6 separate regions of the Homo sapiens genome follow, and all the other regions are linked to region 4. Evidence: fine-mapped expression QTL. A gene starts in region 4. Each other region holds a variant in brackets. All regions are shown on one strand. Distances are from middle to middle.

Region 1 (5,074 bases), 64 kb before region 4:
AAAGATTGGAGAGGAGAGGGGAGCACCTGATAAGGCCTTGTATGAGGAGGCGTCTCTGAAAGCCTTGGGTTGCTTTGCTGTCTTCCCTGAGCTGGGGTAGAGTAGAAAGAATTAGATGATGGGGGAATTTACTGCAGTATAAAAGCATAAACCTTTGGCCAACATGAAGATTTTCTTAATCTGATTAGGTGCCTGGCATTCAGAATCATTTAATGCCTATTGTACAAAATGAATAAAAATGTGCTGAACTTCAGCTGCTTAATAGAACAAATAAAATTATAATTTACTAGGCTAATACATCACAAGGAATGGGGCTGTTTCTCTTTGGGGAATCTAGAGACCTGTGATTCAGAGTTCTGAGTCGAAAGACTGATTTGAACACTGAAGAATCCATAACAACAGATAACAAACAGGTCAAAATCCAGCAAAGGGCGTGCTCACCCTTTCCCAAATTCCTCCTCTGTTCTGGTATTTACCATATCTGGAACAACGTCAGAACCCTAGTTCTGATGATATTTTTATAGGATTGACTGGAATGGCAATTACCCTAGAATATTTAACTTTTATTATCCCAGCAATTCCATCTAGAATATATAAAAAGGCAGGAGAAACTGCACTCAACTCCACCTTCCCATTGCTAATTTCCTTCCTTTCTAGTCAGTTAATAGGTCTCAAGAGGCTGTGTTAAGACAGTATGTTCAGAAGCTTTCAATTTTTTAAATTCTGTTTGAACATTTTCTACCCAATCTATAATATCGCTTCTCCAACAGAAAAGCAACAATTATAACATGGCTATGGCTTTTCTTTGAAAAGGAAAAAGAATGGGGTGGGAGCAAGGGTGGGGCAGAGAGGGGCACGTGGGCTTGAAACTAAGTGAAGACATGTGTGGCCAATACAGATTCGCAGAGAGGCAGCTGGGAATATGCTAATATCCCATCTCTCCTGTTCAGTGCCATCTAGCTCCTAGCGATGGGGAAGAGGCGGGAATGCCTGTCATTAATCTGCTGAAAACTACACCTCAAAGATCATCTTGAACTTGATGTTGATTGAGAATTGATATTAATTTTCCCAACTTATCTTTTGGAGAAGGAGCGTGGACAAATGAACTTGAGGCTATCTTTTTTTTTTTTTTTTTTTTGAGACAGAGTCTTGCTCTGTCACCCAGGCTGGAGTGCAATGGCATGATCTCTGCTCACTGCCACCTCCACCTCCCAGGTTCAAGCAATTCTCCTGCCTCAGCCTCCTGAGTAGCTGGGACTACAGGCGCCCACCACCATGCCCGGCTAATTTTTGTATTTTTAGTAGAGGCAGGGTATCACAATGTTGGCCAGGCTGGTCTCGAACTCCTGACCTCAGGTGATCCACCCGCCTCAGCCTCCCAAGGTGCTGGGATTACAGGCCTGAGCCACTGCACCCAGCTGAACCCAAGGATATCAATGGGTTTAAGCTATGGGCACCTGATTCCTGAGCACTGCACAAAGACACTGTCACAAAGACACTTAGGCAAAGACAAGTACTACTTCAACACTATGGATTTCACAACCATGGACAGCCACAGAAACCTGTTGTTTGAATGTTCATTGACTAAATACGTGTTAAGAATCCCCTAGCTGGTCAAACCTATTTGGGCTTTTTCTGCCTTCTTTGCTAAATTCAATATCCAAGGACATTTTCTACCACTCTCCCCCTTGTGTGCTCCAGCCGTAGTAGCATCCTCGCTGTTTCTTGAACACAACTAGGGTGGCTCCCACCCGGGGCTTCTATACTTGACAGTCCATCTATCCAGAAGCTCTCTCTCAGATAGCAATATATGGTTCCATCACCTCCTTAGGTCTTTGTTCAAATGTTATCATCACTGAGAGTTCCATCCTTCCCCAATTCTCTGACACCTCCATTCAGTCTGCTTGATCTTTCACTTATGTATTTATCATCTCTCTCTTTCTCCCCTAAAATGTGAGCTTCCTGAGGAGTCTTGGTTGTTCACTGCTATATCCGTCCTCATCCTAGATTGGTGCCAGGCTTAGGGTAGGCACTAAGTAAGTATTTATGCAATGACTAGATAAATGAATGAATGTCCT[C/T]CTGAAGCCGCTTTCCTTGTGAGGAATCACATATCTGCATATCATCTATACATTTTGAGGAAGTTAGCATCTAGGGCAACCATGTCCAACCCTTTGAAGGCAAGGATTTTTTGCTTATTTCTGTGGAGGAAATCACGAAAATTACGCACAGAGTCTTGCTCTGTCACCCAGGCTGGAGTGCAGTGGCACAATCTCAGCTCACTGCAACCTCTGCCTCTGGGGTTCAAGCAATTCTCCTGTTTCAGCCTCCCAAGTACTGGGACTGTAGGCACACGCCACCATGCCCAGCTAATTTTTGTATTTTTAATGGAGATGGGGTTTCACCATGTTGGCCAGACTGGTCTAAAACTCCTGAACTCAGGTAATCTGCCCACCTTGGCCTCCCAAAGTGCTGGGATTACAGGTGTGAGCTACCGCACCCAGCCAATTATTTTATTTATGTATTTATGTATTTATTTATTTATGCATGTCAGCTATTGTTAGTGTTAGCATATTTTATGTGTGGCCCAAGACAATTCTTCTGCTTCCAATGTGGTCCAGGAAAGCCAAAATGTTGGATACCCATGATCTAGGTCCTGTAATGTGCTTTTGTTATTTTCATAACTACGGCAAGCAACGCTTTTTTAAACACATATTTATTTCCAAGTGAAAGTAATAGAAAATAGGAAATTCATTTGATCAGTTAGCAAACTTTCACTGAATATTCACTCACTCTACAATAGATCCTATGGTAGGTCTAGGGATTCAAAAATTAATTAAGACGTAATTGTTGATTTCAAGGAATTTCTGGCGAGGCATGGTGGCTCATGCCTGTAATCCCAGCACTTTGGGAGACTGAGTCAGGAGGATTGTCTGAGCTCAGGAGTTTGAGACCAGCATGGGCAACATAGCAAGACCTCATCTCTACTAAAATAAAAAAATCGCTGGGTGTGGTGGCACATGCCTGTAGTCACAGCTACTTGGGAGGCTGAAGTGGGAGGATCACTTGAGCAGGGGAAGTTGATGATGCAGTGAGCCCTGATTGTGCCACTGCACTTCAGCCTGGGCGACAGCAAGACCCTATCTCAAAAACAAACAAGCATACAAAAAAAAAAAAAAAAAAAAAAAACAAGCAAAAAACTTCTACTAGGAAAAGAAAAACAAACCAAAGAAAGAACAAATAATATGTGCTATAGTGGAAACCATGTTACATTCCTCAGGGTAAAAGGCTAAGCAGCTTTAACAAACAGACCCAACAATTCTGTGGCTTAAAGAAACAATGAATTCATTTATCTTGCCTAACAGTGAGGGTGGGTAGGCAGGATGGCGTACACAGTCATTGAGGAATCCATATTGCTCCCCTTCCACCCAAAGACTTTGTCCTTCTCTGCATGACTGAGGTAGATTAGATTATTGCTCAAAAATAGTTATTTCCTCCCCTAAACCTCTATAAAAGATGTTTTGTGCTCCTCCTCTTGAATTTGGCCTCCACCATGTGACTTGCTTCGGCCAAGGCAAGGTTGGGAGCAAGTGTGGCTCAAGCAGAATTTTGACATGTGCCTGCACAGCTAGGCTCACCCTCTGCCATCCCTGCCATCACAGTAAGAAGTTGCCCTAGGTAGCTGCTGCCCCTTCAGCTTGGGTCTCAAAATGAACACTTGTGGAACAGATCAGAACTCAACCCCAGCAAGAGTCAGGCCCTGCCAGACCCATAGCTTGAAGCAAAGGCACTTAGCCAACTCTCCAAGAGAAGAAATGATTCTTGTTTTAAGCCTGGGTTTTAGGGTGGCTTGTTACCTAGTGCTAGCTCACTGATGCAATGGTGAGCACTGGGTTTCATAATACATCCATGTTCCAGCTCACAGGAAGGGGACAGAGAGCAGAAAAGCAATGCAGTGAGGTGGGAGTGGCACAAATCACATCTGCTCACGTTCCCCACACGGTCACACAGAGCTGCAAGCTGAGAGTGGGGGTGGTGTGGGAAAGTCAGTCTGTGGTAGGGTGGCCATGTATTTAGCTACTTCCCCATTGTTATGGAGAACAGGGAGAATGGATTATTTATTTATTTATTTATTTATTTATTTATTTATTTATTTTCTGAGACAGAGTCTTGCTCTGTTGCCAGGCTGGAGTGTAGTGGTGTGATCTTGGCTCACTGCAACCTCCATGTCCCGGGTTCAAGCAATTCTCCTGCCTCAGCCTCCCGAGTAGCTGGGACTACAGTTGCCCGCCACCACGCCCTGCTAATTTTTGTACTTTTAGTAGAGACGGGGTTTCACCATGTTGGCCAGGATGGTCTCGATCTCTTGACCTCATGATCCACTTGCCTCGGCCTCCCAAAGTGCTGGGATTACAGGCGTGAGCCACGGCGCCCGGCCAGGGAGAATGGATTTTAGGGGCTAGCTAGCAGTACGTGCTACATGCAAACAATGACCGAAATGGAGAGGTGAAAGGGACCATCAGAAGACATTTCTCAGAAAAACAAAATACTTTGGTTGAGGCCTGGGGGTGTGGAAAAGGCAGGGAGAAGCATTCCAGGCAGAAGAAGCAGTGCACACAAATGGGAAAAATACACGGGAAACTATGGCTTGATGAGGGGCGGTAAAGAGATTGATGTGATTGGAGTGGCATCGATGGTGCTGGAAGGAGAGCCGGTGTAAGCAGAGGCCTAGCATGATTAAGACATTTGGGCAGCTGAGAGGGCACATAGTTTGTTTTACTTGACTTTCTATCCTGATAGATCTTTATGATCGTTACATGGTCACAGAAAAAAATAGAACTGAGGCAAAAGTTTTATAATGTGCCAGAGCTGGTTGTGTGCACCTTCTCTGTTCTATCTGACTTGTTTTCTCCTAGGAAATGGGAGGTGGGCATGTGCTTCCACCTGGGTGCCCCCATGTCTTTGACATGGTCCTCACTCCTGCAGCTTCAGGAACCACAATGCACCTTTTCCAGCTTTCTGCATTGCCAATTCAAACTTCCACCTTCCTTTCTCCAAATGCTGTCTGGGAAGCACA
Region 2 (5,073 bases), 36 kb after region 4:
AATTTTGAAATAACCTTGTGTTCATAGCATGATAGTGAGTCCTGAGTCTCTGTGCCCAGAGCTCTGATTAGACTCCAAAGACCTGAATTTATATCATATTCCCAGTTACTGTTATACTTATATCGTTAGATTTTTACATTCCATTTTAGTATCTCAGTGTTTATTTCTTATCGTTAAAGATGATTTTGTGGTTTTGAGTTTTGCCTTTTAAGTGTGGGTTTCTGATATGCTGAAATCCCAAGGCAGTTTTTATTTCGGTGCAGCTTTAAAATTCAGTGGAGGTCATTGTCCACTGGCCGGTTTTGAAATGATCTTAGTTCACACCCAGATTCTTGCCCTTTGTTTAGTTTTTCTTGCCTTGACCGCATATGGGAATAGACCTCTCAGGCTCTGCTCTGTTAATTTCTATCACCTCCCTACAAAGGCCCTAACTCATATCCCTTGGTCCCTGTGGCTCTGAAGGTCGAGTTGTCACATAGCTCTTTCCTCCTTCAAACGTACTGGGATGGTCAGTAATGAGTGCTGCAGCTGCCCTGGTCCTAGGAGTTGCTGTGAGCATCCTGGTAGTGCCCAGAGAGTACCTGCTTTTCACACTGAACCATCTGGGTGGCCTGGGCCCAGTTTTTGGCATTTAAGGGCCTTGGAGGGAAAGGGAAGAAAGCTGGAATTTGAGCATAAATTGGATTTTGTGTGGGCTGAGGGTCCTCCTAGGTGTAGACTGTCCCTCCTGGACCTGTACCCACTCTGCTAGCTCAGGAGCCAACCATGTCCTGAACAGCTTAGACCAGCACCCAGACCCTAAATGACCTAGATTAGGAAGTAGATAGGTTGTTCTCTGCTGTCATTGTTTGGACACAGCTCTATTTACCTTATTTATTGTTCCTGCTAGGCACAGCCTCAGCTAATGGGCTGTGATCTCCTGCCTTTAAGGCTGGTTCCAGGCGAATTAAGAGCCTTTGCTTGTTTCCCAAACCAGGGAGGGCAGCTTTACCTTGAGGATGAAGGCGCCTCCAGTTGCTGAATGTGGTTGGGGTTACTGTGTTCTCTCATCAAGGTGTAGCTTTACCTTACCTTTCGGTGATGGGTTCTGCCACCTTATCGCGGTGGGTCCCAGGAGACCGGGCGCAACTGGAGCAGGGGCGCCCTCTGCTGCTGGGTGTCAGCTCTTCCTCCCACGGCTGCCCAGGGGATTTGCAAGGGGCGGTGGAACACTCCTGCTTCCTCCATCCCCTGTGGGACCACCTGAGGTGGAGGAAGGACAGTGCCAGGACCATGTGCAGGCTGAGCTCGCCCAGAGGCGGTGCAACAGCTAACGTTATTCTCTGTGGGTACATTTCTCTTGTCGTTTGCAGGTCTCTTTTCGAATCTGTTGTCCTTTTTCCCCAAACCAGCCTGCTGCCCCCATCCTGCCATGTGGTCTGCTGTCATCTGCAGTAGCCGCCGCATGTAAGACACGAGGACCTCTTCTGCAAGAGCTTGGTGTGGGCATTTGTGAAATTTTGTCACCACAGCCCCTGTAACCAGCCAACAAATTCGAGTTAAATGCCTATTCTTTGTCCCACACGTATTAGTTACAGAGAGTGGAGAACAAGTGGCAGATAGAGGCTGAGGGAAGCCAACCCACTCTGAGGGACTGGGCATGTAAATGGGACAACCTCCACAGCTTTTTAAACCACAGGACACCCAAAAGCAGCTGTACCCTGCAGGACACAGCAGGCTACAGAAGCCTGGGGTTCAGAGGGTCTCTGACCCTTCGTCCTTTAGCGCTGCTGACCAGGCTGCTGATCCTCGACCCCTTCTTGTCACCCATTGTGTCCCTCTTCTCCCTTTTCTCTGGCTCCTTCCCTTGCAGCCTTTGCATATGCTGTGTTCCTTACCTGGCCACCTCCAGTCCCGCTGTCATCTCTTAGTGACATCCTCCCTTCCTCTCCAGCAGGTGCTGGTGCCCACAGCACTCTGTACCATCCTCTCATTGCCTCTAGCTCCCTGTGGTTTCATGACCTCATGACCTGTTCACGGATCAGGCTTCCCCAGGCCAGAGATTGAGGAGTGGGGGCAATTCCTTATTCATCCTAGGAGGCTCTTAATCAGCGTTTGTTGAGTGAATAGGTGAACGAATGTGGGAATGGGATAAACAGGAAATAAGCCCTGTGCCTGCCTTAGGTAACTTAGTAGCCACCTTGGGTGTGGGTGAGAAGAGGAAGTGGTTAGGAAGACACACAGTTAAGACAATGGGA[C/T]TCCTGTGCTGCTTTTTCTAGGCTTCTCTTTGCTGGTGGTTACCTTTACAGGAAATCTCTTACCCAGCCTTCACTCCACCCAACTGCAATAATGCTTTTCTTCCTTCCCCTCTACTTGGCTCTATTATCTTAACTTTTATCAGCATACAGAACAGTTTTGGTTGTGATGTTTTATTTGTGTAAGTTTTGCCCTTTCAACTAGGTTGTAAACTTGAAATCCTGGGTTTTACTTCCTAAGCAGCTTTGTAAAGAAATGGAGACAACATTGCACCAAGATAATTTTTGTCATGGCCACCCACTAGCTGTGAGATCTTGGGGGATGAGTAATTAAGCTCCTCAAGGCCTCTGTTTCTTTATCTGTAAAACTGGAGGACTGGTCTCTCTCAGGGGCTTCCAGTGTGAAAGTCCTGGGGTTCTGGGCCTCTGATCCTGGCACCCCACTTATCCCTTCCAGCACCCTCCACATGACTCCACCTCTGACATCTGCCAAGTACAGTAATTTAACACATTCACCTTATAGTCTAGGCAGTTCACCTCCCAGGTACTTGTTTGTTGGCATTCCTGGGATCGGGGACATCACTGGAATAGGAGTGGAGCAGACCTGTGGGGACCCTTGTGGCCCCGGCCTTGCCTCTGTCCTCTGTCAAGAAGGTTCAGGCACCAAGGACACTGCTCCAGTTCCTAATTTAAAAGTCTGTGTGTCAGTTCTGTACCTTGGTGTGTGCTGTTTTGTTCCTTCAAATGTAGGGTGGGTTTGGAGGTGGGGGCTGACTGTGACTGTCCAGGGATCTGGGAGGAAGGACAGTGCTGGGGCTATGTGTTATCCATGAGCCACCCCTCCTTCTCTGTCTGGGCATCATCTGGCCCCCCTCCCTGCTTTCCAGGTACACTTGCCTCCGGTGGCACCTGCTGCATGATATTGGTTTAAAAAAAATATGTTGAATCCTTTATTGGAATGATTCCTTTATTGGGACCCAACAGGCATGAAGGTAATAGAGACTATTTGGTTTGTATTTTCATTTGTTTTGCTTTTGCTTCTGAGATTTGTGGGTTTCTTGATGGCCAGGAGTGGCTTGTTTTCTGTTGTAAGAATTTGTTGTTTGTACAGGTTCGTGTTCCCAGTCCTTTTCCTCAGCTCCAGCCTTGTTTCCAAAACTCTCAGCTCTTGGTTTATCTCTGTCCAGTCAGGTGTGTGTTCTTTGTCTTTGTTTCTTGTCCTAGTTGTTCCATGAGTCAGCCAGGCCTCAAAGATTGTAAACCTGATGGTGAGTAAAGGTGTTAGCAAAAGAGACCTAGCAACAAGGTCATTGGATCTCTAAAGAGCCTGTCAAGCTGTGAGATGGTGAAATTTTAAGGACTGTGGATTTGGACTGGGGGCCTCCTTATAGGAGATAAAAACACTCGGCTGGGGAGAAGAAGGAATATTACAGTGCCTAGTACATAAGTGGAGCTACACCAGTTGTCCCTGAATCCTTTGTGGGAGACTGATAGGATGAGAGAGGACGAACTCTTGTAATGTGACAAAAGTGCAAGGAAGTAAGAACTGACTTGGAAGAACAAACATCAACTTGTACACCTCAAATATATCTGCTTTTTATTTGTCCATTCTACCCTAATAAAACTGGAGGGAAAAAAAAAAAAGAATTGGAAAGAGGCCAAGGCTGCAAGTGAATAATTCAGTCGAGTTGTATCTTACTTACCATTAGGTTCTCTCAATTAGTATATAAACTGAAAATCTAAGATATAGTCAGAATTACCCTTGAAAACTACCTCAGGAAGGCACAGTGTTAGAAACTGACATATTATTGCTTATTACATTTAGTGTGGCCATTTTTTCCTTCCATTGTCACAAGTATTTGGTTTCTTCTCTTGAGTTTCATATGATATCCCTGGCATCATAGGGGCTTAGAGGTTGTATTCTTTGAAGAGGGTGTCTTTTAAACACCAGATCATACCCAGCAAGAAATGCTGATACTATGAGAGACAGGCCTATTTTCCTCGTTTTGGTATCCCCTCTTTGGCTTCCCCTGTTTAGTTGTGTTTGTGCGTTTTGCATGAACCAGCCATAGGACTCTACATTTGTTCTCACTCACTGCCTAAGCTGTTGAAGAATTAGTGGACTCCTAGACAAAGAATAATCCCACTATCTCCTAGTTCTGACTGATTTAACTGTTAAACGTATATTAAATTCAAATCTCCAAATTGTCTCTGTTTCATCAACAGGTTGCTCGTGGGGGCCCCGCGGGCAGAAGCGCTTCCACTGCAGAGAGCCAACAGAACGGGAGGGCTGTACAGCTGCGACATCACCGCCCGGGGGCCATGCACGCGGATCGAGTTTGATAACGATGGTGCGTTCCTTTCCCTCACTCAGCGTTCACTCCGGCAGCTTGCCTGTACTGTTTCCATGAGGGAGGAGAGTGGGGACAAACATTTATTCTTGTAGAGAGGACTTCTTTTAATTGCATCAGACTTGACTGTTTTTTATTTGCCCTGAAAATATTTACTTACTTTACTTCTGAATCATACTGGGATGCCGCGTGTTTTGCTGCTCCTCCTAACCGTGGTTTCTAAACCGATATGGTGTAGGGATGTTGCCACCTAGTGATGTGTTGAGGTTCTGCAGGAGGTTGTGGAAAAACTCATTTCATAGCAATGAAGAGAATGAATGAGCGTATCTTGTATTCATCAGCCAAAAGTTCTCACATGCTGTTAAAATATTTGGGAGAAAGACAGTTTTAAATATCAGACCCCTTTGGAATGAGAGCTGGCTAACAGAGATAAAGTTTTCCCTCCTGTCTCAGATAGAGACTTGTTTTGTTAAGGGCTCTGGATAGGT
Region 3 (5,074 bases), 110 kb after region 4:
GTGGAATAGAAAGGGGGGAAAGGTGGGGAAAAGATTGAGAAATCGGATGGTTGCCGTGTCTGTGTAGAAAGAAGTAGACAAGGGAGACTTTTCATTTTGTTCTGTATTAAGAAAAATTCTTCTGCCTTGGGATCCTGTTGATCTGTGACCTTATCCCCAACCCTGTGCTCTCTGAAACAAGTGCTGTGTCCACTCAGGGTTAAATGGATTAAGGGCGGTGCAAGATGTGCTTTGTTAAACAGATGCTTGAAGGCAGCATGCTCCTTAAGAGTCATCACCACTCCCTAATCTCAAGTACCCAGGGACACAAACACTGCGGAAGGCCACAGGGTCCTCTGTCTAGGAAAACCAGAGACCTTTGTTCACTTGTTTATCTGCTGACCTTCCCTCCACTATTGTCCTATGACCCTGCCAAATCCCCCTCTGCGAGAAACACCCAGGAATGATCAATAAAAAAATAAATAAATAAAAAAATAAATAAATAAATCAATAAAAAATAAAAAATAAATAAATAAATAAATCTTCCTTTCTGTGAGCCACATTTAGAGATTCTAGATTTTTAAAAAACTGCTTAACATCTCTTTGAAAATAATTCATAATACTTGTGGTTAAGTCATAACCTTAGTTGAGGTTTGTTAGTTTCACCTGTGAGGTTGCTTTTGGTAAAGTTCAAAAGCCAGAAATATTGGCGGCTTGACCAACTCAAGTAATAAGGGATTTGAAAATATTTTTTAAAAGAGCACCATGGTTAAAAGTCAGCTTATATTAAAAGTGGAGAGGCTGCGTGTGGTGGCTCACGTCTGTAATCCTAGCACTTTGGGAGGCCGAGGCGGGTAGATTGCATGAGCTCAGGAGTTTAAGACCAGCCTGGCCAACATGTCAAAATCCTGTCTCTACTACAAACACAAAAAATTAGCTGGGCATGGTGGCATGCACCTGTAATGTAAGCTACTTGGGAGGCTACCTCTTGAACTCAAGAGGTAGAAGTTGCAGTGAGCTGAGATTGTGCCACTGCATTCCAGCCTGAGCAACAGAGTGAGACTCTGTCTGAAACAAAAAAAAATTGGATATCCTAGCTATAGGTATATTTAAAACACCTTTATGTCTTTTTTTTCTCTTCTTGGATCTTGTTTGGTTGGAAAAAGGTTTTTGTCTTCTCAGTTGACTTAATTTTTTTTTCACTCTTAATGCACACATGAGAAGCCTAAGATAATTTCTGATAGCCTGGGATTCCTTGGGAAAAACAGAGAAGGCACCACAGAACCCATTTTGGGAAAAATGTTTTCCTCAGGGAACTCTAACTAATAATTAAAGTCAGATAGATCCCTCTCAAAATCTGTTTTTGTCTTCAAGCTGTACCTACTTATTAGGCCCTAGAAACGGCATGTTTTCCTACCGGTTTTTTGAAGAGCTCAACCCGAGTCCAGTAACCCAATTAGGAGATTGGCAAGTGAAAAATCTGTCAGGGCCAGGTGGCTGACACCTGTAATCCTGGAACTTTCAGAGGCTGAGGTGGGTGGATCACCTGAGGCCAGGAGTCTGAGACCACCGTGGCCAACACGGTGAAACCCCATCTCTACTAAAAATAGAAAAATTAGCTAGACATGGTGATGGGTGCCTGTAATCTCAGCTACTCAGAAGGCTGAGGCAGGAGAATCACTTGAACTCAGGAGGTGGAGTTTGCAGTGAGCTGAGATCACATCACTGCTCCCCAGCCTGAGCGACACAGCAAGACTGTGTCTCAAAAAAAAAAAAAAATCTTATAACTAGTGGATCTTCTTCTGTCTGTGTAGTTATGCATGTGATATGTATGTGATGTTTATATAAAAAAGAGCTCCAATTAATTGGATTAAGTAAAAATAAGCACTTAGATCAAATATTTTTAAAGAAAAAATAGAAGCTGTAATCCCTTTTAGTTCATGTGACTTTAATCTTTGAGAAATAAAAAAAGTCTTAAAGGTTATATGACAAATGTCTTCAAAATGTAAATATGTGGTCTAAATTATGCAGGTCAAATACTTGGATTACTAAATACTTTAAGGTCAAAAACTGCTTCTTTGGCTTTTGAAAGTTGTTAAGACTTGCCTGCTTTACAGTTTAAGGCCTGGGGACATATGGATTTAACTGTACCCCTAACTATGCTGGAAAGACACCTTACCTGTGCCTAGTACATAATTAAAATAACTAACCAGGTTTTACATTAACACTAAAAATATCTAAGAGTTACCATTATAACATGTAACGGAGGCTACCGAAAATAGATTTACATGGAAGGTGTAAGAGAAAAGTAAAATATGTTTTTAGTAAAAGATTATAAGAAGGCATGGGAATGTAAATTTTTGCCTAGAGGGTTAAAGGATTGTTTTAAATTAAAGGTTTGAACAAGTTGTGGAAGGTCTGTAAAAATTAACTTTGTAAAAGAAATCTTGTGTGTAAATGTATTGACTAAATTCAAGAGTATTATTTGGTTTTTCCACAAATAGAACATGGGAATAAAAGGAAAACAAGGTTTTCTAAAGGCACTGATCTGCTCTTTAACAAAAATGTGTAAAGAGTTATAAAAGGCTTATAAGAGGATGGGCGCAGTGGCTCATGCCTGTAATCCCAGCACTTTGGGAGGCTGAGGTGGTCGGATCGCCCAACCCCATGTCAGGAGTTCGAGACCAGCCTGGCCAACACAG[C/T]GAAACCCCATCTCTACTAAAAATACAAAAATTAGCCAAGTATGGTGGTGGGTGCCTGTAATCCCAGCTACTCAAGAGGCTGAGGTAGAAGAACTGCTTGAACCAGGGAGGCGGAGGTTGTAGTGAGCTGAGATCGTGCCACCGCACTCCAGCCTGGGCAACAGATCGAGACTCTGTCTCAAAAAAAAAAAAAAAAAAATGGTTTATAAGAATCTCACCTGACAGATGAACAGGTTAAGATTTGATAGAATTACCTATAAGGTTTTTTGTTGTTGTTTTTGAGGCAGAGTCTCACTCTGTCACTACCCAGGCTGGAGTGTTGTGGTACAATCTCACTGCAACCTCCGCCTACTGGGTTCAAGTGATTCTCCTGTCTCAGATTCCTGAGTAGCTCGGATTACAGGTGGGTACCACCAGGCCCAGTTAATTTTTGCATTTTTAATAGAGACAAGGTCTGTCCATGTTGGCCAGGCTGTTCTCGAACTCCTGGTCTCAAATGATCCCCTGCCTTTGTCTCCCAAAGTGCTGAGATTACAGGTGTGAGGCACCACCCCCAGCCTATAAGGTTTCGTTTTTTAAAAATTAAGGCTGACATTAATAGAAGACTAATGTAAGGGTGGAATTTGGCTTTCTCTCTCTTAAACAAGATTTTCACGTAATATAATTAAAGGATAATGAAAGACTTTTGTTTGTCTTGCAAATAAGCTACTGAAAAAAAAAGGAAGGGAGATACAAGAGACAGACTGTTTGGAAACCTAAGTCTTCCCTCTAAATGAGTAAAGGTTTTTGCTTTTTAAAAAAATTTTTGGGCTGACTCTCTTTTTGGACTCAGCTCGCCTGCACCCAGGTGATTAAAAAGCTTTATTGCTCACACAAAGCCTGTTTGGTGGTCTCTTCACATGGACGTGAGTGAAATTTGGTGCCATGACTCAGATCGGGGGACCTCCCTTGGGAGATCAATCCCCTGTCCTCCTGCTCTTTGTTCTGTGAGAAAGATCCACCTACGACCTCTGGTCCCCAGACCAACTAGCCCAAGGAACATCTCACCAATTTTAAATCCAGTAAGTGGCCTCTTTTTACTCTCTTCTACAACCTCTCTCACTATCCCTCAACCTCTTTCTCCTTTAAATCTTGGCGTCACACTTCAGTCTCTCCCTTCTCTTAATTTCAGTTCCTTTCCTTTTCTGGTAGAGATGAAGGAGACACGTTTTATCCGTGGACCCAAAACTCCGGCGCCAGTCAAGGACTGGGGAAGACAGTCTTCTCTTGGTGTTTAATCACGCGGAGACGCCTGCCTGATTATTCACCTAAGTTTCAGAGGTGTCTGACCATGCAGGGACGCCTGCCTTGGTCCGTCACCCTTAGCAGCAAGTACCGCTTTTCTGGGGGGCAAGAACCCCCCAACCCCTTCTCTCCGTGTCTCTACCCCTTCTCCACTTTTCTGGCGGGCAAGAACCCCCCAACCCCTTCTCCTTCACCCTTAGCAGCAAGTACCACTTTTCTAGGGGGCAAGAACCCCTCAACCCCTTCTCCTTCACTCTTAGTGGCAAGTACTGCTTTTCTAGGGGGCAGGAACCCCCCGACCCCTTCTCTCTGTCTTTACCCCTTCTCTGCTTTTCTGGGGGTCAAGAACCCCCCACCCCTTCTCTCCGTGTCTCTACTCTCTCTTTTCTCTGGGCTTGCCTCCTTCACTATGGGCAAGCTTCCACCCTCCATTCCCCCTTCTTCTCCCTTAGCCTGTGTTCTTAAAAACCTAAAACCTCTTCAACAAACACCTGACCTAAAACCTAAATGCCTTATTTCCTTCTGCAATGCCACTTGACCCAATACAAACTCAACAGTGGTTCCAAATAGCGAGAAAATAGCACTTTCAATTTTTCCATCCTATGAGATCTAAATAATTCTTGCCGTAAAATAGGCAAACGGTCTGAGGTGCCTGACGTCCAGGCATTCTTTTACACGTCGGTCCCTCCCTAGTTTCTGTTCCCAATGCAACTTGTCCCAAATCTTCCTTCTTTCTCTCCCGCCTGTCCCCTTAGTCCCAACCCCAAGCATCGCTGAGTCTTTCTAATATTCCTTTTCTACAGACCCATCTGACCTCTCCCCTCCTCGCCAGGCTGAGCTAGGTCCCAATTCTTCCTCAGCCTCTGCTCCTCCACCCTATTATCCTTTTTATCACCTCCCCTCCTCACACCAGGTCCGGCTCACAGTTTCGTTCTGAGACTAGCCCTCCCCCACCTGCCCAGCAATTTCCTCTTAAAAAGGTGGCTGGAGCTAAAGGCACAATCAAGGTTAATGCTCCTTTTTCTTTATCCCAAATTAGAGAGCATTTAGGCTCTTTTTCAACAGATATAAGAACCCAGCCCAGTTCATGGCTCATTTAGCAGCAACCC
Region 4 (5,074 bases):
ACAGCTGGTGTGACATGGGGATATCCAAGCAGAGGGAGCCCTTGCTGCATCAGGGCTTAAGGGCTTAAACTTTCATTTGCCAGGTTGTGAGGAAGTTGCTTAGTCCTAGGAAAATGGGCAGGGCAGGGATGGTTGCCTGTGAGGAACTAAGGGCAGCAGCTTTTATCAACCAATTCAGAATATTTCAGTAACCATTACAGCCAAATCACCAGCTCCTGGCTGAGTACACTCTGCAGTGAGGTTCATTATACTATGCCTATAATAGTCTGGACCCCATCTCTCTGGAATAGTACATATTTTACACGAAGGGAAAAGGCTAACTTGCAACTTATTTGCATGAAAAATCACGTTGCAAGTACTTCTTAGTTTACTAGATTGTCTCCAATAGTTTCTCAACCTTATCAAGATATATTTGTTAAAACTGTGTGCTCTCCAAAATCATCTACTGAATTTAAACCACTGCACCCCACTTTGGACTATAATTGACTGGAGTTACTGATTGGAAAGGAAGTGGTACACACCCCTAATATACTGACGGACTTACTCTGACAGCTGCTACCACCTGTGGGGACCCTTGATGATGTTCACGCAGCTTTTCTGAGTGGCACATGCTGTTCTCTTGAATACTCCTTGAGGTGAAGAAGAGGCCACCCCTACCCCTATGCACACACAGCTCCTGCTCTTTCCTGGGGCTGCACCCTGCTTGTATTTCCAATGCAGGGATGTCAGATTCCAAAGAGGGCTCCCCAAGGCATTCCAGAAGGCTTCAGGCCAGCACGTCCCAACCTTTTCATGCCATGGGACCCCTTTGGCAGGCTGCTGAAAACCATGGGGTTCTTCTCAGAATAAGGGTTTTAAATACATAAAAGAAACCACAAGAGGTTACAAAAAAAGCCAATAATATTGAAATGTAGCTAACAAAATGTTTTTAAAAATTTGTGCTAGAGCAATATATATGCTTCATTATTGACATATAATATCTGGCTGATTGTCTAATAACTACTGTTATTTGAGATACTTGCAACAACTGTGATGTGATGTAAAAACCTATGGTTTCTAGTGATTACTAAGTCATAAATACTTATCCTACTGCTACTGTAGTTTGTTGTCTACGTTCATAATGGCAAAACGTGCTAAATGTCAGAGGTTGGTGAAAATTAAGACGTAAATTTTTTCTCATCCAAGTTCACAGTACTCTTGAATTAATTACCTCTCCTCGGGTTAAGAACCCCTGCAGGATAAGGTTGCCCCTAGGGCCAACACCTCACTGGAGCCCCGCCTCATGTCCTGGAGGCAGGAGCCTTCATGCCACCTACACAGAACTCGGAGCTGTCTCTTGGCCCAGCAGTTCTCCCCACAACTAGTTCTGAAAGTCCGGGGCTAGGAAAGAACGGCATCGTCGCCTGAGCTCCTGGCGCCACTTTAAACAACCCATCCTTGACTTGCGTGACTTCTTCCACAAGCTCTCCTGGTCACCTGGGCAAAATCCTAGGTGATCTGGGGACAAGGCGGAACTTCGGTTTTCTGATCTGCAAAAAGAAACACCTACCTCATAGGACTGTTAGGATGAATTGAGGTAATGGCTGGGTTGTGTACATTATACAGCACTATCAAGGTGTGCGCTGTGATCATTTTTGAGGGTTGTTAGGTGTTTGAGGACCCAGAACAGTCTACACAGCTGTAGTCCCCAAGTGTTGGGCACGCCTTAAGCGCTCCATAAACACCTGTAGAAATGAATGAATGACGTATGCATCTGCACGTGGGCCCACATCTGCAAGAACAGGCTGCTCAGGCCATGAGGCCCGGTGCATCACCTGCACTTCTCTTTATAACGGGTAGTAAAGTCTCCCTCGCTCTGTGCTACTCGGCAACCACAATTCTGTCCACAGAGGGCGGCGCAGTGGGGCTGCTTCGCCGCGAGCTCGCCTCCGGGGCTCCCACGTCGTGGCTTCCGGGCAGGTACCGGGCAGCTGGAGACGCCAGAGCCGGCGGGTAAGGTGCGGGCGGTGCGCCGGGCCGCGGGCGCGCAAGGAGGGGCGAGAGGGTGGGGAGGGGCGGGGCCGGCGTCCTCGTCACTTGATAAAACGCCTGCGAGTCTCCAGAGAACAACGGGCTCATTCAGCGGTCGCGAGCTGCCCGCGAGGGGGAGCGGCCGGACGGAGAGCGCGACCCGTCCCGGGGGTGGGGCCGGGCGCAGCGGCGAGAGGAGGCGAAGGTGGCTGCGGTAGCAGCAGCGCGGCAGCCTCGGACCCAGCCCGGAGCGCAGGGCGGCCGCTGCAGGTCCCCGCTCCCCTCCCCGTGCGTCCGCCCATGGCCGCCGCCGGGCAGCTGTGCTTGCTCTACCTGTCGGCGGGGCTCCTGTCCCGGCTCGGCGCAGCCTTCAACTTGGACACTCGGGAGGACAACGTGATCCGGAAATATGGAGACCCCGGGAGCCTCTTCGGCTTCTCGCTGGCCATGCACTGGCAACTGCAGCCCGAGGACAAGCGGCTGTGAGTTCCCAGACCCTTCCCACCCCCACTGGGGCGCCGGCCTGCGCGCGAGTTGAGGCGAGGGCGCGCCCTGTTCCCGCCGGCCCCGGGGAGTAGTTGGCCCGTGGGTCGCGCCCGGGCCGGCCGAGGCGCACCCAGCGCCCAGCGCGCTCGGCTCCCCGCCCTGACCCGCCCCGCGCGGCGCCTCCCTCCATTCAGCTCGGGAAGGAGGAGAACCCGAGGGCTAGGCTGGGCCCCGGGAGAGTTTACTTTTTTTTCTGTTTTAAACAAAGTGCTTTCCGCCGGTTCTTCCCTCCGGGCGTGTTTGCTGGGACCCCGGCAGGTGGCACGCTTTGCTGAGCTTCACGTGTGTGTTTGGGGCTGGGGTGGCGTTCAGGGTCACCGCAGCGCTGCTGTGGGTTTGCAGGGAGCGTAGTTCCAGGATGGTCTAGGCCTTTCCCAAACTCACGGTGCACCCCGTCTCCCCCGCAGACTGGCGCGCCCCGCACAAGTTGGAAAGCCACTTTCCATGTGTCCTGCATGACTTTCTCAGCAAGGCGGGGGCGCTCCTTAGGAGATACTTTTACATGCCTTTGAAAAAAAAAAAAAAAAAGATGGGGGTGGGGGCGGGAATTAACCAAACACCTGTTCGCTGGACTAGATCAGCTGAGAAAACAAGTCTGAGTGATGTGCCCAGCCCCCAAAGTACTCGGCCGCACCCGAGACCCGCTCGGCTCCTGCGTTGGGCGGGCACAGCCAAGGGGTTAAAGCAAAATGTCCGATCTGAGCCTGGACTTTGCAAACAAGGTTTGTAAGGGACAACCCCCCACCGTAGCGGTAAACCTCCCAGGAGAAAGAGGAGACCGGCACTACTGGCCTCTCCTTTTATTTCTTAAACAGTGTTTGGTTCCCACATGATCGGCTATTTAAGCCGGAGAGGGTATTTTGGCGCTTAGTCGCCTTAATCGCTATGGGGTTGCATTCTTCATCTGTGCTACTGAAAAATAGGCTGTAGCAACAAAAGGTCTCCCCTCCCCACCCAGGCCTTGAGTTGAACTAAGGACCTTCCAGGACCAACAGACCGGAGAAAGCAAAGTGCAGCCACAGTGAAGAGATTTTGTGTTTAGGAGAGGCGAATGGGATTTTAGAACTGGAGGAAACCTCTTGATTTCAGCGGTTAACAACTTTGGAATTCGTGAATGTTGCAGCCCCTGAATTTTAGTCAGTTTTTTTTTTTTTCTGATAACACCTGCTAGGTGAAGCACAGAAATTAGCTGGGGGTGGGGAGGCTCTAGGAGGGTGGTCTGAGGCTATATGCCTGGCCAGCTGCTTATACTCTGCTTTCTCTCAGAAATAATTGTTGTTAAGCTGTAAATCTGAAATGAAAGGTTCCTGTTAACTCAGTTAATAGATGACGTTTATTGTCTCGGAATACTTGGTGTGTAGAATTTGAGCTTGTTAGTGCAGAAATGATTGTGGGCCAGCAGAGGGAATTCATTCTCCTGGGCATTCTCTCTCTGCACCAGAGCCCCACTGAAACCGGTGGCTTCCTTGAAATACTTGTTCAAGCAAAAAGTGTGAAGGGAAAGTACTGGGACAAGAAATATCCTGGCAGTGGAGATTTGCGAAACGTGACTTTGCCAGGAATCTGTGTCGTGAAGGTTAGCAGCATGCTTGCTAAAACTTGTTACTGCTGCTGGGCTTCTCTGGTATTAGAGCTGAGGCAACTCCTCCCGAGGTAAGGATAAGCCTGCAATGGGGTCTGATGCCTTCTAGGAAAGCTCTTCTTAGCAGCTGACAGAGGGGAGAGGCCCCGTATAAGGAGACTGTATGTTTCCTAGAGTCCAAAGGCAGTGACCACACTTTAAAGAGGCTGTGGTTTATGTCACGTGCTGCCCACCTCCATGCTTTTGTAAAGCTTTATTCCAGCTTCAGGAATAGCATTGGTCTTCCCAGGAGAACCAGCACACACAGGCCATAGCACAGGTCAGTTGTCAACCTTTGACAGTAAAGAATGTGGGTGTAAATGGCAGAGCCAGTAAGACTGAGAAAACTTCTGGACCAGCTTCCTAAACTCTATGGAAAAACTCAGTGGGGGTCTTTCAGGGACCTGGTGGGAGAGAGACCTAAGCTGAGATTCCTTCTCGGCCTTTTATTAGCAGCTGTTAATTTACTTTGAGCTTTAATTTCTTTATCTGTAAAATGGAGATATTACTGCTTACTGGGGTTATTATGAGGATTAAGAGATAATATGCAAAGTGCTTAATGCCTGTCTGGCATGGGTACTTGCTGACTAAATGGTAGCTGTTAATGATCATTTAAAAAGCAGTAATTGTGTACCTACTGTGTGTCAGGTACCTTACAAGGTGTCTTAAACATTCTGTGATTCTAAGATTGCCTGAGAGTAAAGCCAAAGGTGGTTGTTTTTGGGTAATGATATTTTAAACTCAGTCATATTTATGAAACCCATGTTCAAAGCAACTTAACTTTAATAGGTCTTAATTAGACTTATAACAAAAGTGAGTTTAATGAACAGAGGACTTTGAGGAAGGAGAAGTAAAATATCAGATGCATGGGACGGTCAGATAAAAGCACGATCATAG
Region 5 (5,074 bases), 250 kb after region 4:
TTAAAATTAAGATACGTATAGTGTTTTTTAAATACATAATGCTTCTGCATACTTAACAGACTACAGTATAAAGTAAATATAACTTTTATATGCACTGCGAAACAAAAAAAATTGTGTGACTTCATTGCAGTATTCATTTTATTGAAGTAGTCTGGAATCAAACTCACATATCCCCAAGGCATGCCTATACATTGCTTTTGTTGCAGTGTGATAAATGGTGTCGTTTTTGCAGCAAGTAGCATTTTTGCTTCCTCAGATGGGACCGGAAAGTTCAGAGATTTTTATTAGTTAAGGTAGCAATGTGCCATGCTTCTTTCTTTCTTCATACACTTCCTTTATTTGCTGAAGCCTTTCTTCCAGTAGCTTCCTAGAGTATTTGCAAGGTACATTTTGTATCTATTTTGCCTTTACACTTGATTATTTGATTGGGTTTAGAATCCTGAGAAAAAGTAAATTTTTCCTTAGAATTTGAAGAGAAGTCTCAGGACAACAGCTTTTCAACAAGTCCAGACAGCAACTTGCTCTGGATTGCAGCCAGAGGAAGAGGGCTCCAGGAACAAGGCTGTTAAGGGAAAATAACAATTGGAAGTGTTTGAGCACTTAGGAAAATTATTGCCTAGACATTTCACAGCTCTGTTAAAGCATTTTGGGAAAAATAAAAGTACACAAATAATTAAACATCTTAAAAAGAGGCAGTTGTTAACTTCAGAGAAAACAAAAGTTTATACAAGAATGAAAACATCACAGTGAAGTTATTTGGCTTAGCAGTGAATAATACTTAGATGGTCAAAATAAGGTAAATATTGATTATGGATTTAATCCAAAACTGTATAGCTACATTGGGAGGATGAATAAAAGGGAAATTAGGCCGGGTGCGGTAGCTCACGCCTGTAATCCCAGCACTTTGGGAGGCCAAGGCAGGCGGATCACCTTAGGTCAGGAGTTCGAGACCAGCCTGGCCAACATGGTGAAACCCTGTCTGTACTAAAAATACAAAAATTAGCCGGGCATGGTGGTGGGCGCCTGTAAATCCCAGCTACTCAGGAGGCTGAGTCAGGAGAATCCCTTGAACCCAGAAGACGGAGGTTGCAGTGAGCCAAGATTGCACCACTGCACTCCAGCCTGGGTGACAGAGGGAGACTCCGTCTCAAAAAAAAGAAAGAAAGGGAGTCAGAGGGCTCAACCACAAAGGGAAGTCTATCGATCCTGTAATGAATCACATAGAGACACTTCTGAGAGTGAAGGGACCACTGGCTATAATTATTCTGAGACAACAGGTACAAATTGGAATTGATGGGCAAACTAGATGTATGGTCACCCAAATTACAGGCATATTATTTTAAATGTAGAGGTAAATGCCAGATGAGACAGGTAATTCAGTTGGAAGTGGCAGTCTCTAGGGAGTGGGATTGGTGGTTGGAGAGAGTAAGACAGGAGACTGTTGGCTTTTAACAGTCTATTAGTACTATTTGATTTAAAATAATGCTTATGCATTATATTAAAATAAACTTAAAAGTTGACTTTTTAGAACAGATTAGATTAACATTGCCTAATGCTTTTTGATATAAACCAAAATGTTCCTTTTATAGCAAGAGGCCATATAGAAGGACTCCTGGAATACTTACTTCCTATACTATGTATTTGATTCTTTCCCCAATTTAAGAAAGGTGCCACTGGAGGGACAATAAGTACTAGGTCCTCTTTGTCTCTGAAATAGGGCCTTGGCACAAAGTAGATGCTTATTAGTTATTTGTTAATGAATAAAAGCAACATTCAGTAGCATTTTCAAAGGCAGAAAAACCTTTGAGAAACCAGGTTTATCAGATGATATTTCCAAGTACAGGTGTAATGGCTTACCAGGCTTACCCTGAGTGGAGTTCATCAGAAGGGGGTCCGCAGGCAAAGTGAAGCAGGGAAACCTTTTTTGTTTTTACAAAATATAGCTCTAGAGCTTAGAGTGTATGATGTTGACTCTGTCGCAGAGATTTCTTTAAGACAATGGTACCTAAAGCAATAATAATTGAACATTCAGAAATATAGCCTGTAATGTGTGCCTTTAGGGATAATGGTATGTTTTTTACTGCTGACTTGATGCTCATTAGTTTGAAACTTCCCTAAATTTTTATTCTCAAAGAAAATTTTAAGCCAAGCATGATGACTCATGCCTATAAATCCAATGACTTGGGAGCCTGAGATGGGATGATTGCTTGAAGCTAGGAGTTCAAGACTAGCCTGGGCAACATAGTGAGACCCTGTCTCTAAATTTTTTTTTAAAGATTGGTCAGGTGTGGTGACATGCACTTGTATTCCCAGCTGCTTGGGAAGCTGTGGCAGGAGGATCACTGAAGCCCAGGAGTTTGAGGCTGCAGTGAGCTATGATGCCACTATTGTCATCCAGCCTGGGCAACAGGGCAAGACTCTGTCTCTTAACAACAACAACAACAACAAAAGAATATTTTATTTTTCATTGTTATTTGAGCAACAAGATGAAGTCATGAAGTCTTGAAGAAAGAAAGAACTGGAAGCATTTTCTTTTGGAAAACATTTTTATAGCCTAATGTACTATAGTTTTGAGGAGGGTTTGGATCAGTGATGACCATCATAGGGTGAACAACTTGTTCAGAGTATTTGCAGTAAAATAGGCCCAATAGATTGTGAAATTGTAGCTTATTGTATATTAACATGTATCCTCTAAATTGAAGTTATAATGGAAAAAAATGGGGAGAGAAAGAAAAAAAAAGAATGGAAGCAAAACAGAAACAAGAAAGAAAAGAAGGTAATAACTCAGCAGATCTAGCTATTGGAAACCAGGTCGAACACAGGTTAAATCTCTAACCTTAGGGTTTTGGGTTTTTTTTAGCCTCTTCATTTAGAGCACACCTAAACTTAGGTTTTTTATTTTTTATTTCTTTAAGTAGAATTATCTGTCAAAACAGACACAAGACCCTATTTCAGAGACACAAGAAATACCAAAACCAGTCTTCTTAATTTGAAACCATTTTCCCCTCAATGCTTAAGAGAAAACTTATATCAGGTCCATTTTTCTTAGTAGAGTTATATTGTAAAACTTTTCTTGACCCCCA[A/G]GTTCAACCCCTAATATACCAAATTCCAGCCAGGTGCTTCTTCCTTGCATGCTCTGTCACAGTCTTTATCACAATTGCATATTAGTAATTGTTTACTTGCCAGAATTTTTCCTGAATTGCAAGCTCTCGGAAGGGGCCATTCTATTTTGTTCATCATTGAATGCCCTAGGTTCAGTATTTGGGCATAGTGGATGCTCAATCAATATTTACTGAATAAATGAATTGTACTATCCTTTCTTTCTTTCTTTTCTTTTCTTTTTTAAATAGAGACAAGGTCTCACTCTGCTGCCTAGGCTGGAGTGCAGTAGCGTGATCATAGCTCACTGCAGCCTTGAACTCCTGGGCTCAAGTGATCCTCCCACCTCAGCCTTTGGAATAGCTGAGGGTACAGGCATGCACCACCATGCCCACTAATTTTTATTTATTTATTTATTTATTTTTTGTGGTAGAGACGGGGTCTAGCTATGTTGACCAGGCTGGTCTTGAACTCCAGGCTTCAAGCACTTCTCTCCCTCAGCCTCCCAAAGTGCTGGGATTATAGATGTGTGCTATCGTGGCTGGCCCTATTCTTTTTTACTTTATGTCTACAGGAACCTGTCTGGAAACAATGTGCACTCATTGAAAACTTGACTCCAACAATAAATTCTGAATTTGGCAACTGGTCAAAGCTCTCTAGTCCAAAGGGAATAAGACAATGGGTATTGTGACAGCTTACAGGCAACAGAGAGCTTAAGGCAGATCTCAAAAGCAGCTACAGAGGGCCTGGGCCAATTAGACAAAGGAAAAACCTGGGATTGCCATCAGGCTTTGACACTTCTCTTTCTTTTTAGTGACTGTTGGCTCATTCCTTAGCCTATGAAGCAACTCAGGGGAAGTATAAATTATGGCAAGAAACTATACTCCATCTTTCACCTGGCAACAGGCTTAGTACATCTGGCTTATTTCTGAGCTGTTGTGTGCTGCTAGATATTGTGATCTCTCTTGTTTTGGACTGTAATAACTCTGAGAGTTTTTCTTTCTCTTTGGGAACAGTTTGGTAGCAATCATTTAAACTAGGCACTGTATTTAATTTATTGGGAACGAAAGTTGTGCCCACAGAGGAAAGGAGTGAAAAGAAGTTAAGCGATGCTCTGAACCAGGGACAAAATCCGTATTATTACATAATGCCGCCCCAGTCCCAGTGAAGTTGATAATTCTGATCACTAATAGTGGACATGCACATTATGGAGCTTTATTATTTAATTTTGAATTTTGTTTTTGCAGTGGGGATAGACTTGTGCCAGTTAATTAGTGTTCTCTTTTCTAATTCCCTTGTGAGACTTGGCATGCAGCTGAGAGGCAGTCCTTCCTAACCATGAGATAGAAAATGAGTTATCAGCACCTACGTGCATTGAGTACTTCTCTCAGCTTCTGTCATTCATTCATTCAACAAATATTCATTGAGCACCTATTATGGGGCCAGACATTATTCTAAGTGCTGGGGAAACAACAGTATGTAAAGTAGACATGATGTTCTAGTTGCGGAAGATAGACAATACACATAATAAATAAGTAAATTATACATGTTCAGAGGTGATTAATGGTATACAAAAGGAAAATCAGGGTAATGGGCATGAGGAGTGTAAGTGGGCAAGGTGGGGAATTGCAATTTTATCTATTAGTTATTATTATTTTTTATGGAGTCTCAGTCTGTTGCCCAGATTGGAGTGGAGTGGTACGATCTCTGCTCACTGCAACTTCCATCTCCCAGGTTCAAGCGATTCTCAAGCCTCAAACTCCTGATAGATGGGACTACAGGCACCCGCCACCACACCCGGCTAATTTTTGTATTTTTAGTAGAGACAGGATTTCACCATGTTGGCCAGGCTGGTCTTGAACCACTGACCTCCAGTGATCTGTCCACCTCGGCCTTCCAAAGTGCTGGGGATTAAAGGCGTGAGCCACCACGCCCAGCCAGGAATTACAATTTTAAATGAGCAAGTCGATGTAGG
Region 6 (5,074 bases), 200 kb before region 4:
TGTTCTAGTACTAAGTTCCATGTCCCAGGAAACCCCCCAGTCCTGAGCAAATGGAATGGCTGGTCACCTGTTCCTGCTCTGGTGGGCACTCTCATCTCATGCCCTCCACTCAGGCTCTGAGCCAAAGCAGTGCCAACCTTTCCAGGTGAGCTCTGCTTTTCATAACCACCTAACCCAATGTGGGGAGGGAAGGGGGAAGCAAACCACATCAGTGTCTTCTCCAGGGCTAAAGTACAAAGGAGAAATAGTTTTCCTTTTTCCATGCTTTTTGTTTGGAAGAAGGAAGATAGCTCTAAGCCCGATGGTACCAGGATTTCTCTTTTATTTTGCTCTGAGCTGTCCAAATGGCCTTAAATATGTTTGATGTTCTAATCTATAGGAGAGTTATGGGTATTCTTGCTGAGTAGTACATTTCTTTAATATTCCTGAACCATAATATATGTCTGTATGTTAGAGGCCTGCCAGCCAGCCTCTCAATGTGACTTACCTTCTGTGCGGTTTTGTGAAAAGTTGACCTGGATTTTGCTTAGATGGCTTTAGAAATGGAATCCATCAAAAATATATTTCTTCCTATCTCTCTCTTTCTAAATTGCTGTTTGATCTTGTTGTAGTCTGCTAAATCTTGGCACTTGCTTCAAGTTGCACATCACCCTTTTTACATGGTTTGACAGATATAACCAACTTTCATTTGAAATACATACAATATATCAAATATTACTGGTTATATAGAATATTGGTTATATAATACATACAATATATCAAACATTATTGGTTATATATAACACCATTGCACATATGTAGCTCATTTTTTAAATTTAGTGCATCAACATAAAAAGGAATGAATTAATGGCATTTGCAGTGATCTGGATGAGATTGGAGACTATTATTCTAAGTGAAGTAACTCAGGAATGGAAAACCAAACATCTTATGTTCTCACTGATATGTGGGAGCTAAGCTATGAGGACGCAAAGGCATAAGAAGGATACAGTGGACTTTGGGGACTTGGGAAGCATGGGAGGGGGGCGAGGGATAAAAGACTACCAATATGGTGCAGTGTATACTGCTTGGGTGATGGGTGCACCAAAATCTCACAAATCACCACTAAAGAACTTACTCGTGTATCCAGGCCGTGCGCGGTGGCTCATGCCTGTAATCCCAGAACTTTGGGAGGCCAAGGCGGGTGGATCACTTGAAGTCAGGAGTTCGAGATCAGCCTGGCCAACATGGCAAAACCCTGTCTCTACTAAAAATACAATAATTGGCTGGGTGGTGCTTGCCTGTGGTTCCAGCTATTTGGGAGGCTGAGGCAGGTGGATCATTTGAACCCGGAAGGCAGAGATTGCAGTGAGCCAAGAGCGTGCCACTGCACTCCAGCCTGGGCAACAGAGCGAGACTCTGTCTCAAAAAAAAAAAAAAAAGAAAAAAGAAAAAAAGAACTTAAGTAACCAAATACCACCTGTACCCCCAATAACCTGTGGAAAAATAAAAAATAAATAAATTTAGTGCATCAAAAGTTTATCCATTCATTTGCAAAAATGCCATCTTTACCCATCAATTCCCACCGAATGATACACAGCTGACCCAAATTATTTAAATGAAAGTGTCTTTGATCTGTTAAAAAAGCATAAGAACCAAAGCTCCATTTCAAAGCTGCAGTAAGACCTAGTTTGTCAGACAGAACTAAAGATTCAAGGCCAAGGGTTGTGTTAGGGATGATAGGATTGTATGTTCTCTTTACAAAAACAGAAATTAGCCAGGGCACAGTGGCTCACACCTGTAACCCCAACATTATGTGAGGCCAAGGTGAGAGGATTGCTTGAGGCCAGGAGTTTGAGACTAGCTTAGGCAACATAGTGAGACCCTGTCTCTGTAAAAAATTTAATAATTAGCCAGACATGGTGGTGGGCACCTGTAGTCCTAGCTACTTGGGAGGTTGAGGCGGGAGGATTGCTTGAGTCCAGGAGTTTGAGGTTGCAGTGAATTATGATCATGCCACTGCACTCCAGCCTGGGCGACAGGGCGAGACCCTGTCTCTGAAAGAAAAAAAAAAAAAGAAAAGAAAAAAAAGACACTGGACATCATAATTGACCAGAATGGGGCTAAATATTTGCCCTCCTTTTGCTATAGCTACTCACTTGGGAAAAACTGATTTCATTAGGCAGAATTTCCCCAGGCTCTGTACTTTCTTCAGATAGCCTTGGTATGTTAGGAAATGTTTGCATTTACCAGAGACTAAATGGCTGTTTTTTCTCTAAAACTTGTAACATTTCCTTCAAAAGGTGAATGCAAGACAACCAGCCCCTCCCTGCAATTTGCTGAGCTAGTGTACTGGTAATATGGGCCAAAGACTGTGATCTCTTCCTAGAAACACCTGGCTGGTTACAGACACACAGGAAGAA[A/C]AATTGGGTAAACACAACCAGCTTTCCGTCAAGTTCTGGTGGGGGCTACCCTCACCACTTCGACTGAGAAGACACAGTTTCCTCCCAGAAAGTTCTTGGGGGTAGAGGAGTGAGTATCCTGGACCTTGGAACCATTGGCTACCTCGTGCCTCTCTTACCTGCGCCCTTAAGAAACGTTTCTGTTCCATTTCTGGTTCCTTTTGGAGGAATGCCATGGTTTTAATGCTAATGACTCAGCAAACATTAGTTCTTTTCCTTAGTTATGGATGCTTTTGCTCCTTTTAATTTCTAATCTTATTTCCCAAAGATTTTCCCCACCTCAGCCCACCACCACAGCAGGAATAACTTTATTTAGAAAAAATATTGGGGCCGGGCACGGTGGCTCACGCCTGTAATCCCAGCACGTTGGAAGGCCGAGGTGGGCGGATCATGAGGTCAGCAGTTCGAGACCAGCCTGGCCAACATAGTGAAACCTCGTCTCTACTAAAAATACAAAAAAATTAGCCGGGCATGGTGGTAGGTGCCTGTAGTCCCAGCTACTTGGGAGGCTGTGGCAGGAGAATTGCTTGAAGTCGGGAGGCGGAGATTGCAGTGAGCTGAGACCGCACCATTGCAGTCTAGCCTGGGTGACAGAGAAAGACTCAGTCTCAAAAAAAAAAAAAAAAAAAAAAGAAAAACTATTGGGTATTTTCTAAATGAGTAAGATCTACTTTACATCTTCAAACCTTCACTGTCAGCGGACCTTGTCTTCCAGTTACCAAGAGTGAGGCCACCTAACCTGATGGCCTTCTTTCTACCCACCTGAAAATCTCTGTTTTTACCCATTTCCTCTCCCCTCCTCATATCTGAGGAGTAGAAGTGTCCGTCTTCTTTACATAGTTAATATTTTCCTCTGTATCTTCTGTCACCTCCCACCACGCCTCTTTTGGACCTTGCAGAGTCCCTTTTCTCTGTATCTTTAGTCTGGTGTTTTCATTCTTTCCTTCTCCACTGAGTCCTCATCTTACACACAAGTTCCAGCTTCCAACTTTTATATTTTTTAATATTTTTTTCGAGGCAAGGTCTGTCTTTGTCACCCAGGCTGGAGGGCAGTGGCATGATCACAGGTCACTGTAGCTTTGACCTCCCAGGCTCAAGTGATTCTCCCACCTCAGCCTCCGGAGTAGCTAGGACCACAGGCCTGTGCCACCATGCCTGGGTAATTTATTTTTACTTTCTGTAGAGACAGGGTCTCCTTGTGTTGCCCAGGCTGGTCTCAAACTTCTGGGCTCAAGTGATCCTCCTGCCTCAGCCTCCCAAAGTGCTGAGATTACAGGTGTGAGCCACTGCATCTGGCCAGCTTTCACATTTTAAGGAAGTCACCTGCTCCACTGTTGCTGCCCTTTCAAGCTACTCCCCTTCCCTTCATTGCTAGTCTTCTCCCTGTGTTATCTGGAACATCCCATCCTTCCAGACCCTGCTCAATTGCTCAAAAGCCTCCAGGTGGGAAGGACCTTGTGCTGCTGCTCTCTGCTCCCTCTTTACCAAAATCTCTCTTCCTCCATAGGAAAAACTCATCCTCAAGACAGCCTCCCCATCCCCCAGTCCTTATGACAGTGTGCTAAATCCGAGAGGAAAAACCCAAGGTCAAGTTTTCCCTTAGTAGAGCCACCAATGGGAACAGTAATCTGTCTGATCCCTGCATTGGTTGACCTGTTCAATTTAGGCATCTTCCAAGGACAGATGCTAGTTGGAGATGAGGTTGGTGAATAATTAAATCTGAAATTACATTAAGAAAAGAAACAGTTCCTCCTTTAGCAAGGAATCTAGTCCAGTTTCAGGGAGTTACTGGGCTTCCTGTATCATGTGGCTTCGCATTTGGTTCCTATCCATTTAATTTCTATCTTGGGTCTGGTTGTGGGTAGGGGAAGGATCTCCCAGTATAAAAGAGGAGCTACACCAGTCTTTAGTGGATCTTTTGTTACTCAAAGAAGGGCTCTGGGCATTCTATTAAATATTAAGATTCTTTCTGTTTCATTTAATTGCTGTTTCTCAGCATCCTGTGACCCTATAATTTGTCCAGGATGGTTCTTCCTTGACCACTATAGGATGTCAGGTATCCTTGTTTTCCTCATGTCTCAATGGCCCCTTAGGGGCCGCTGACAACAATGGTTGAGAAGACACTATTTTCCCATAAATGTTTACATGCTGTGGCAGGCAGAATTCTCAGATGACCCCCAATGACCCACCCCAGTATGCAGTCTGCTCTTCCTGAGTGTGGGAAGCACCTGTGAGTATGATGATATTATGATTGTATTCTATGCGATGGTAAAAGGGAGAGTATCCTGGTGGACTTGACCTAATCTGATGAGCCCTCTAAAAGCAGAGAGTTTTCTCTGGCTCGCTCCAAAAAACAAAGTCAGAGATTTGAAACAAAAGAAGAATTTGGCATGGAATTGCTTATTTGAAGGTAGAGGCCACATGGCAATGGATGTGGGTAGCTCTCTGGGAGCTGAGAGCTGGACCCCAGTCTTACAAGAAAATAAATTCTGCCAATAACCAGTGAGCTTAGGCAAGGACTCTGAGCCCCAGATAAGAGGTGAACAGACGACCTTGTTCTGTGCCTGGACTTCTGGCCTACAGAACTGTGAGATAATAAGTTTGTGGTAACTTGTTGCACAGCAACAGAAAACCAA

What was found. PIP is the estimated chance that this variant, and not a neighbour inherited with it, causes the effect.
Region 1: its variant is fine-mapped to the expression of ITGA6 in whole blood (TOPMed, PIP above 0.99).
Region 2: its variant is fine-mapped to the expression of ITGA6 in whole blood (TOPMed, PIP above 0.99).
Region 3: its variant is fine-mapped to the expression of ITGA6 in whole blood (INTERVAL, PIP 0.98).
Region 5: its variant is fine-mapped to the expression of ITGA6 in whole blood (INTERVAL, PIP above 0.99).
Region 6: its variant is fine-mapped to the expression of ITGA6 in whole blood (TOPMed, PIP above 0.99). The same link has a PIP of 0.9 or more in T cells and blood mononuclear cells.

Annotation. Positions count from the first base shown.
Region 1 is chr2:172,361,127-172,366,200 of GRCh38, forward strand. All of the region lies in intron 4 of LOC107985960 (a long non-coding RNA gene), which reads left to right. Among named protein-coding and RNA genes, the nearest start is that of ITGA6, 64 kb to the right of the region's middle. The variant C/T (reference allele first, on the strand shown) is at 2,079.
Region 2 is chr2:172,461,079-172,466,151 of GRCh38, forward strand. ITGA6 (integrin subunit alpha 6) reads left to right here. Exons shown (of 26, transcript NM_000210.4): 2 at 4,461-4,585. ITGA6-AS1 (ITGA6 and PDK1 antisense RNA 1) reads right to left here and starts at 4,944. Exons shown (of 2, transcript NR_157573.1): 1 at 4,746-4,944; 2 at 3,184-3,496. It overlaps PDK1-AS1 (PDK1 and ITGA6 antisense RNA 1), which reads right to left. Exons shown (of 4, transcript NR_199657.1): 4 at 3,188-3,496. The variant C/T (reference allele first, on the strand shown) is at 2,238.
Region 3 is chr2:172,538,608-172,543,681 of GRCh38, forward strand. The region is part of intron 1 of PDK1-AS1 (PDK1 and ITGA6 antisense RNA 1); the gene reads right to left. Among named protein-coding and RNA genes, the nearest start is that of PDK1, 15 kb to the right of the region's middle. The variant C/T (reference allele first, on the strand shown) is at 2,682.
Region 4 is chr2:172,425,479-172,430,552 of GRCh38, forward strand. It overlaps ITGA6 (integrin subunit alpha 6), which reads left to right and starts at 2,108. Exons shown (of 26, transcript NM_000210.4): 1 at 2,108-2,492. The coding sequence starts at 2,311. RefSeq lists a silencer at 2,056-2,135 and enhancers at 2,920-3,420, 4,845-5,074.
Region 5 is chr2:172,677,021-172,682,094 of GRCh38, forward strand. It overlaps a transcript of PDK1 not described here. Among named protein-coding and RNA genes, the nearest start is that of RAPGEF4, 56 kb to the right of the region's middle. The variant A/G (reference allele first, on the strand shown) is at 3,084.
Region 6 is chr2:172,221,345-172,226,418 of GRCh38, forward strand. No RefSeq gene overlaps it. Among named protein-coding and RNA genes, the nearest start is that of DLX2-DT, 120 kb to the left of the region's middle. The variant A/C (reference allele first, on the strand shown) is at 2,400.